Linked DNA regions of Homo sapiens. The protein of the gene in region 2 purifies or fractionates together with the protein of the main gene of each other region. This does not show direct contact. Each region holds a gene or a part of one and is shown on either strand. Other genes may lie near its edges. The genes, in order: SMARCA5 and BAZ2B.

Evidence for each region.
Region 1: the proteins of BAZ2B (region 2) and SMARCA5 purify together in Homo sapiens (co-immunoprecipitation; one study listed by IntAct). This does not show direct contact.

What each region holds. Positions count from the first base shown.
Region 1 is NC_000004.12:143,516,618-143,520,446, forward strand, and holds part of SMARCA5 (SWI/SNF-related matrix-associated actin-dependent regulator of chromatin subfamily A member 5), read left to right. Parts: intron 1-737; coding exon 738-812; intron 813-3,829. UniProt on the Homo sapiens protein: ATPase that possesses intrinsic ATP-dependent nucleosome-remodeling activity.
Region 2 is NC_000002.12:159,606,317-159,610,145, forward strand, and holds part of BAZ2B (bromodomain adjacent to zinc finger domain protein 2B), read right to left. Parts: intron 1-3,829. UniProt on the Homo sapiens protein: Regulatory subunit of the ATP-dependent BRF-1 and BRF-5 ISWI chromatin remodeling complexes, which form ordered nucleosome arrays on chromatin and facilitate access to DNA during DNA-templated processes such as DNA replication, transcription, and repair.

The DNA.
Region 1 (3,829 bases), on a different chromosome or scaffold from region 2:
TCCAGTACCGTACCAGATCTCCTCCCCACAACTTTTTGGTCACAGATAGTTTTATTATAGCATATATTGCCTAGCATAGATTTGTGCATCATTAATGAAGATTACTTCTGCCAATTTTTTTTAATGGATGAATAGAACTTTGCAGTGTAGAAGTTGTTTTTTGTTGCTTGTGACATATGAATGTCAGGATAAATATATTTGCAAGAATAACATTTATTACTAGTTTAGGAATCAGACTGTAGTTAGAGTATTCAATTTAGGCTGCGAGATAAAGTTTTTGTAATATTCCAGAAGGTGGAAATCAGGGTGACTAATTCTGATTTCTTTGTAGACATTTGTGTGGTAGCACAGTAGATACTGTAGTTTTATGACAAAAGGGGAACTTTTCCCCACATTTTATACTATTTAGTTTGGTTTCATGGTTATTACAGAAAAAGAGAAACAGATTGGCTTGTATTAAATGTAGTTTTCTTTTAGGATGATGAAGATAATCTTGTGTTCTAATCTTGGCAACAACCATACAGTTTATATATATGGGTTAAATACGTTGTTATCCCCATAGTATCTAATATCATTTTATCAGTTTTTCTGTTAGCTTAGATGACAGCTGTTTAAGTTTCTAGGAAGTTTGGGGTGAGAATGTATTATTTAAGATGTGTTTTGGTCAGAAATTGGTCTATAATGGTATGTTTACTATTTTCGAAGACCAATTCTATTTAATTATTTCTTTCTACCAGGAAATATTTGATGATGCGTCACCTGGAAAGCAAAAGGAAATCCAAGAACCAGATCCTACCTATGAAGAAAAAATGGTATGTTCTAGGCTTGTGAATAGAGTCTATAAGGAAAACTTTTTATCAGGTGATTAAATGTACTAAACATCTATCTTAGTCCATTTTGTGTTACAACAATACCACAGACTGGGTAATTTATAAAGAAACGAAATTTATTTCTTAGAGTTCTGGAGGCTGGCAAGTCCAAGGTCAAGGCCAGCATTTGTTGAGGGCCTTCTTGCAGTGTCATTATATGGAGGAAGGCCAAGAGAAGAGAGCAAGACAGGACTGAACTTTCTTTTATAACAAGCTCACTGGTGATAACCTCCTCCTGAGATACTGACAGTAATCTTTTCCTAATCACCTCTTATTAGGCCCTACCTCCCAACACTGTTGCGTTGGGGATTAAATTACAACATGGGAGATTTGGAGGGGGACACAGTCAAACCATAGCAATGTCTGTTTAATTTTTGTAATTATGGCACAGATATCCATTTGAAATATGTGTAATATGGAATACTATAACTTCCATATCTTATGTGTCTATGTAAGCCAAATGGAAGTATTATATGAATTAACATAATATGATGTCATTATCTAGTTATGTTAACAACACCTTTAAAAATTTAACCTTGGAAGCGAGGTGAAGACCAGAATAGTTACTCAGTGTATGTTTATTCTGCACTTGACTAGCATTGTACTCTGCTAGTTACCAAAAAAAGAAATATGCTCCTTGTTCACAGCATTTTTATATTATAGATGGGGTCTTTACAAAAAGAACATGACATTATATTGGAGTCATTCAAGTCCCAGTTCACGTTCCGTATCTTCTAAGAAACTTCTCAAAACTATGACTTGACTTAAACAGTACCTACACAGAGCTTTAAATTTAAATTCAGTTTTAGTAATAGTAGTAGTGGCTAACAGTGAATGTTTACTCCGTATCTGACCCTGTTAGGAATGCTTTATATGGATTAAACTCATTTAATTGTATTGAAATCTCAAAAAGTTAAAATAACAATGTATTAAATAAGAATACCACTACACAGTGTGCTCCTGTAGGGTAAAAACAGTGTCTTAATCTTTCTTTCTGTCTTCAGTACCCAGAACAGTATCTGGCACATAGCAGATCTTACATATTTTTTAAAACATACTTTTTTCTTGTCCTTTGACTTTCTCTTCCAAATCAGTAAATATTTTTGAATGTCTTAAATAGCTTCAAAATCTTAAAATTATGGTATGTATTTTATGTGCATGTATAATATGCACAATACATATAACACTATGTAAATTATAAATGATATATCTTTAGGTTTGATTTGTTATATATTTTACATATGTATATATGTAACTGTCACCTTTTTTGCTATCAAACTTAGAGAAAAAATAGATTTGCCGCTCTGTTTTTTTAAAGTGAATACTACTTTGAATACAGTCTACATATTTTAATACTGCTTTAACCCTTTATAGTTTAGATTCTGACACACTCTGCTGGTGAATCTAATTGCCAATTCTGAGGCTTAGTTTTAGTTTCTTGATTTGTGCTTGACATTGTTGACCATTCCTCAAAAATCTTGACTTGCCTTGAAAGACATTTTTTCCCGTGATAATATCCTCTTTGCTTTTTTATTCCTTTGTCCTTCCTTATTAAAATTTGAACATTTCTTCCTAGACAGTTTGATTCTTACTGGTTTTTACCTGGTATCTTTAAACTGAATATTTTCAAATACTTAACCTCTAGCCCAGAAGCCTGTAATCCGTATTTTCATTTACTTTAAAATCCTATTCATACCTCTTACTTGAGAATATCCAAAACTGAATTCATAATTTTTACTTAGCATACCTTAGTGTTACCTCAATGAATGAAAGTTCCTCTTCAGGTATACTCAAGATGTTCATGACAGTACTGCATACTTGTAAACAATAAGTTTACTTACGAGTTTATTCTCTTTTCCATATCACCCTAGTTTAGTATTTTTCTATTATTGCATGGATTATTTTGTGCTTCTGTATTTGCCTCCTTTCTTATGATCTGGCCCCTTCCAAGTTTCTTAACATTTTTGCAAAGTGTTATTTATAACACAAATTTGACTGTGAAATGGAGGTTTTTCAGTGGCTCTCTACAATGCTTTTCATTTTCTTAGTGGCCTTTATTGGAACTCTTTTCGTTTCTTCCAGGTTTTTCAGTCTCCCAGCATTATTTCCTTTTTTGACATCATGATCTTCACCTGCACAGTTTTCTTCTAAGCAAGAAGCTCCCTTGTCATCTGCTAGTTCTAACCATAGATAAGTTCACTATCCACTCCTCGTTCTTGAACCCAGAATGCTGAGTACTACTTCAGAAAACTAAATACTAGTGCTGATTGGTGCCAGTATAAGTTTATGGTTTTTATTTTCTTGGACCTTGAGTATTTATTGCCTATCAGTCTCATTTAGCCATTCTAAAATGTCCCCACTCTGATCAGTCTTTCTTCTCCATTTCTACCATGCCCTCATTTCCAATCTTCCTCCACAAAGAATTGCAGGCCTGTCTTTATTTTCTTTCTCTTTTCAAACATATGTATAGCCTCTATTATCCTACCTCATTTCTTCCTGTTTCAGAGAAAGAAGCTAGTCCAAAGCTATTCACTTTAATTTCCGTTTGATTTTATAATTGATTTCTTTCAGGTTCCTAATCATACTCTCTTGTTTCTGCTTTTTAGGTTCTGTTGGTTTTTCTCCCTCAAGACATTTCAGTTTTAACCTTTTCATTCTTTCAAGCAGTTTATCTTGATTCCAAACATAATTACAATAATTATTTTTTCAGTCCAAACATCTTGTAGATGCGTGCTCTTGGCTTTTGTTTCATTATCTATAAATTAAGAAATGTAATTATGTAAAATATGCATTCACATATGTATCTTGTTCAGCACTTTAAAAACAGTCTGTAATCTTGGAAAACATAAATAACAGAGGCTTGTCATCTGTAGGACATTACTGGGGTTCTAGCATGTTCACAGTCTTGTTACTGTGCAGATTCATTTGCTGCTATGACTGCCATTTGTGACCCAATGAAA
Region 2 (3,829 bases):
CTGTCAGTTAATGTTGCCTTGCAGAGCCTGTTTTTCTCAGCATGCTGCACTAACAACCCAGAAACGAAGAAAAGGTCATTTTGTGACTTATACACGGCTCCTGATTTTTTCAAATGTTGAAGATAGGTTTTGGTGCTTCCTATGTCATCACAATGGTTTATGTTAACAGTAATACATTACCCAAAGATCAGAAGCATGTTTCAACAACCATGTCATCATAGAAACCAGAAAAGATAGTAAGCATGGCTTTGAACTAAACTTAGACACTAGATAACTTTTTATTTCCACTGTTTTCCATCTTTAATTTACCTCAAAACTTATCCTTGTACAAGATAAAAAATGGTTACATAAAAGTTTTAAGGTTTTCTTATGACAAATCTCTTGCAAGTAAATGTTCATCACAATACTGCAAATAAAACATTTAATATGCAATAATAATAAATTTCATTATTATTATGATGTAGTAATAATGAAGTTAGGAAAAGACTAACTACTAAAATTTATTGTCCTTGGCCAAGACATTATGTAAAAGATCTTTCATACATTTGTGTTTTGAAAATTTTTTAAATCTTTCCTTTTTCATACTCTTTTTTAGTGGGATTTCTATTTTTTTTTTTTTTTGAGACGGAGTCTCACTCTGTCACCCAAGCTGGAGTGCAGTGGTACTATCTCAGCTCACTGCAACCTCCGCCTCAAAAAAAATAATTTTTATATTTTTAGTAGAGACAGGGTTTCACCATGTTGACCAGGCTGGTCTCAAACTCCTGGCCTCAAGTGATCTGCCTGTCTCGGCCTCCCAAAGTGCTGGGATTACAGGCATGAGCCACCACGCCTGGCCCTCCTTTTTGTCCTTATGGATATGCCCGTTACTGGCAGTCCAGCAGTCTGCTTGTCTTCTGCATTCATCCGAAGGAACTAAAAGAAGTAAAAGTGTTTTTTGAGCCAGAGCCATCATCATGGAGAAAAGGGATACACATATATCACCCTCTGCTCTCTACTCAATGTTCTTAGCAGGGGGGATCATGCATTAGATTTCCAGAAAAACTGTTCACAAAAGCATAGGAAAAGAACCAAGGAAAAGGGAGGGGTTCTGGTTAATCTCAAAACAGAAGATTTGAATACCTCTAACCAGAAAGGGTAGTTTTGTCAGTTTTAACCCGGCCTTCACAAATAAGCCTATCACTGAAATGGAGGATTGAAACTGATTAACCCATCTTCTCCAGAAAAAGCCAAGCAGTCAATTTTGAAAGGAAGGATCCCATGACATTTTCTTTTCCTTCTAGTGGAAGAGGTATGGGTTGGGGTGACCTTGAAAAGGCAGAACCATCCCAGATGTCAAATGGATTGGCTCTAATATAGAGCTCTAGCTCTATATTTGTTCTATAATAGGCTTATGCAGTCCTTCTTTTCTTGGATCTTTTCTTCCTGATCTGTGAATATTCAAAATTTAATTGTTCTTGATCTAGTTCAATGCTACCTAAACCGAAGGGCCTTTTCTAATTATTCCAATGAGAAGCCATCTCTCTCCTACTATGAACTTCCATAAATTGTTATCCATAGCTCTCCCAGAGCATGCTTGGAGATAGCATTCAATAAAAGCTTAAAGAATGAAGGTAGATGCCTCCTCCTTTTCCTATTATTAATACTAGAATAATACAAATGTATCAAATATGTGCAATTCTGTGGTGGATGTCACTGAGTCACTTTACTTTTTCAAACAACGTCTAAATTTTCTGTTTTGCTGGGTTACTAATACAGTATAGAAAAATTCAGTCAGGCCAGGCGTGGTGGCTCATGCCTGTAATCCCAGCACTTTGAGAGGCCAAGGTGCGCAGATTGTTTGAGTCCAGGAGTTCAAGAGTAACCTGGGAAACATGCTAAAACCCCGTCTCTACAAAAATACAAAAATTAGCCAGGCATGGCAGCGTAAGCCTGTAGTCCCAGCTACTTGGCGGACTGAGGCGGTGGGGATCCCTTGAGCTCAGGAGGTTGAAGCTGCAGTAAACTGGGATCGTGCCACTGCACTCCAGCCTGGACAACAGAGTGAGACCCTGTCTCCAAAAAAATAAAAAGTAAAAATAAAAATCCAGTCCATTAACTCACCCTTCTTCTTTTCTAAATATAATTATGTAATGAGAACCAGAAAAGGCAGACAAATAAAATCCCAAACCTGCATTTTAGTCAAAAACTAAGAACCCCTCTTCATCAAGAAGTGGGGAAGGCAGGGAAAACCAGATTTGTTTGAATTTTCCTTCCTTTATTCTGTGATGAGATGCTAAAGAGCAGAGAAATAAATGAAAGGACAATAGTCAAAAGGGAGTGAAGAAGACATAAAATAATTTACAAAATGCCTGATATAATCTCAAATAATGGAAAGTTAACTAATTATAGTTATGATCCTATGCAACTCAAAACTAAAACACAATGCATCATCCTTTAATAACCTTTGGATTTGTTGTTTAAAAAAAAGTACAGCCTACTATCAGCTGGATTAAATTTGGCCATATATTCTGTTATATTACAAACCTATCCAGCCATTTCTGAAGCCAAGAAAGAGTAAAATGCACTCTTAGGACTGGTACTCAACCTTGAAGTGCTGAGAGCTACTTCATCATCTAGTGTGGGGACAAACACATACATGCACATGTGAGCCTAACACCATGTGTGGAAACGCATCATTGTAAATCACTCAGGTATTCACTTATTTTAATATACACAAATCAAAGCACAGCTCCCTGTGATTCCTAAAAGGAGAGCTGAAATAGCATTTAACATTTTCTCCTCCCACCCTTCTCACTAAAAGCTTGAGACACAAAGGTGTTCTCCTCTTTCCTTACAGTTATTACTGACAACATGCAGGAAACTATTATAGCTGGCCTAACTTACCAATACCACCTAAATACTGTAAGAGCATACCTGTGCTTAATACTCCAGAAGTGACTCAAAAAGCAAAAGAGACTCCTTATTAGATTTCTTCTAAAAAACTAGAGTAACTCTATAGTTTTAGGATTAGCATTATTCTAATCCAGTTATAAAGTCATGCCAATTTTCCCTTCTATCTTGCTTTACACCACCACTCATAAGCTAAAAGTATTATACTACTTTTCTACATATTAGATGACATTGTTTTAGACTAATTAATCACAATCTACTGTTAATGTTGTTTCCCAAAACTATGTATAACTAGTAAAATATTATTAGCAATATTTCCAAATCCAGGATAATTCTGTTATTGATCTATGGACAAAATCATAAAACACATATTCCAAAAATTACAATAGTTGTATAATCTAGGTTTGTTTGGTTGATTCTGGCCGTGACAGGTAGGACATGACCTTTTACACTTGTTTCCTTCAAAGCTTCTTCATTTTATTCAGCATTAAGTTTAAATTAAATATTTAAAATTGAACCTGTTCTGTGTTGCAAACACAGCTAAAATAAAGAGCTTCTGTAGCAGCAGTGACCAGATTTTAAATGCAGGTAGATCAATAAAAAAAAAAAAAAATCACCAAGCACAGGCTCCATGTGAGTGGAATGGTTTATAATAGCTTGCAAATGACTATGTGCTTGCTGTAACCAGCTGTTCTTAAATTATGAATATGCAACCAATTCATGTTAAAGCCAAATCCCAGCACTATTTCTACAGAGAAATCCCAGTAGTTTTGCTTGTTCTACATGTTAGCTGTGTTAAGGATACAAATAGCAGTAAGCTTCTGAACAAATAGGACCGAACTATTGGCATTTCATGCACTAGGTCCATTATCACAGCAGGCAATGTCAATCATTGGTACATTCCTATAACAGCTCAGGCAATATGACAATGATCTCA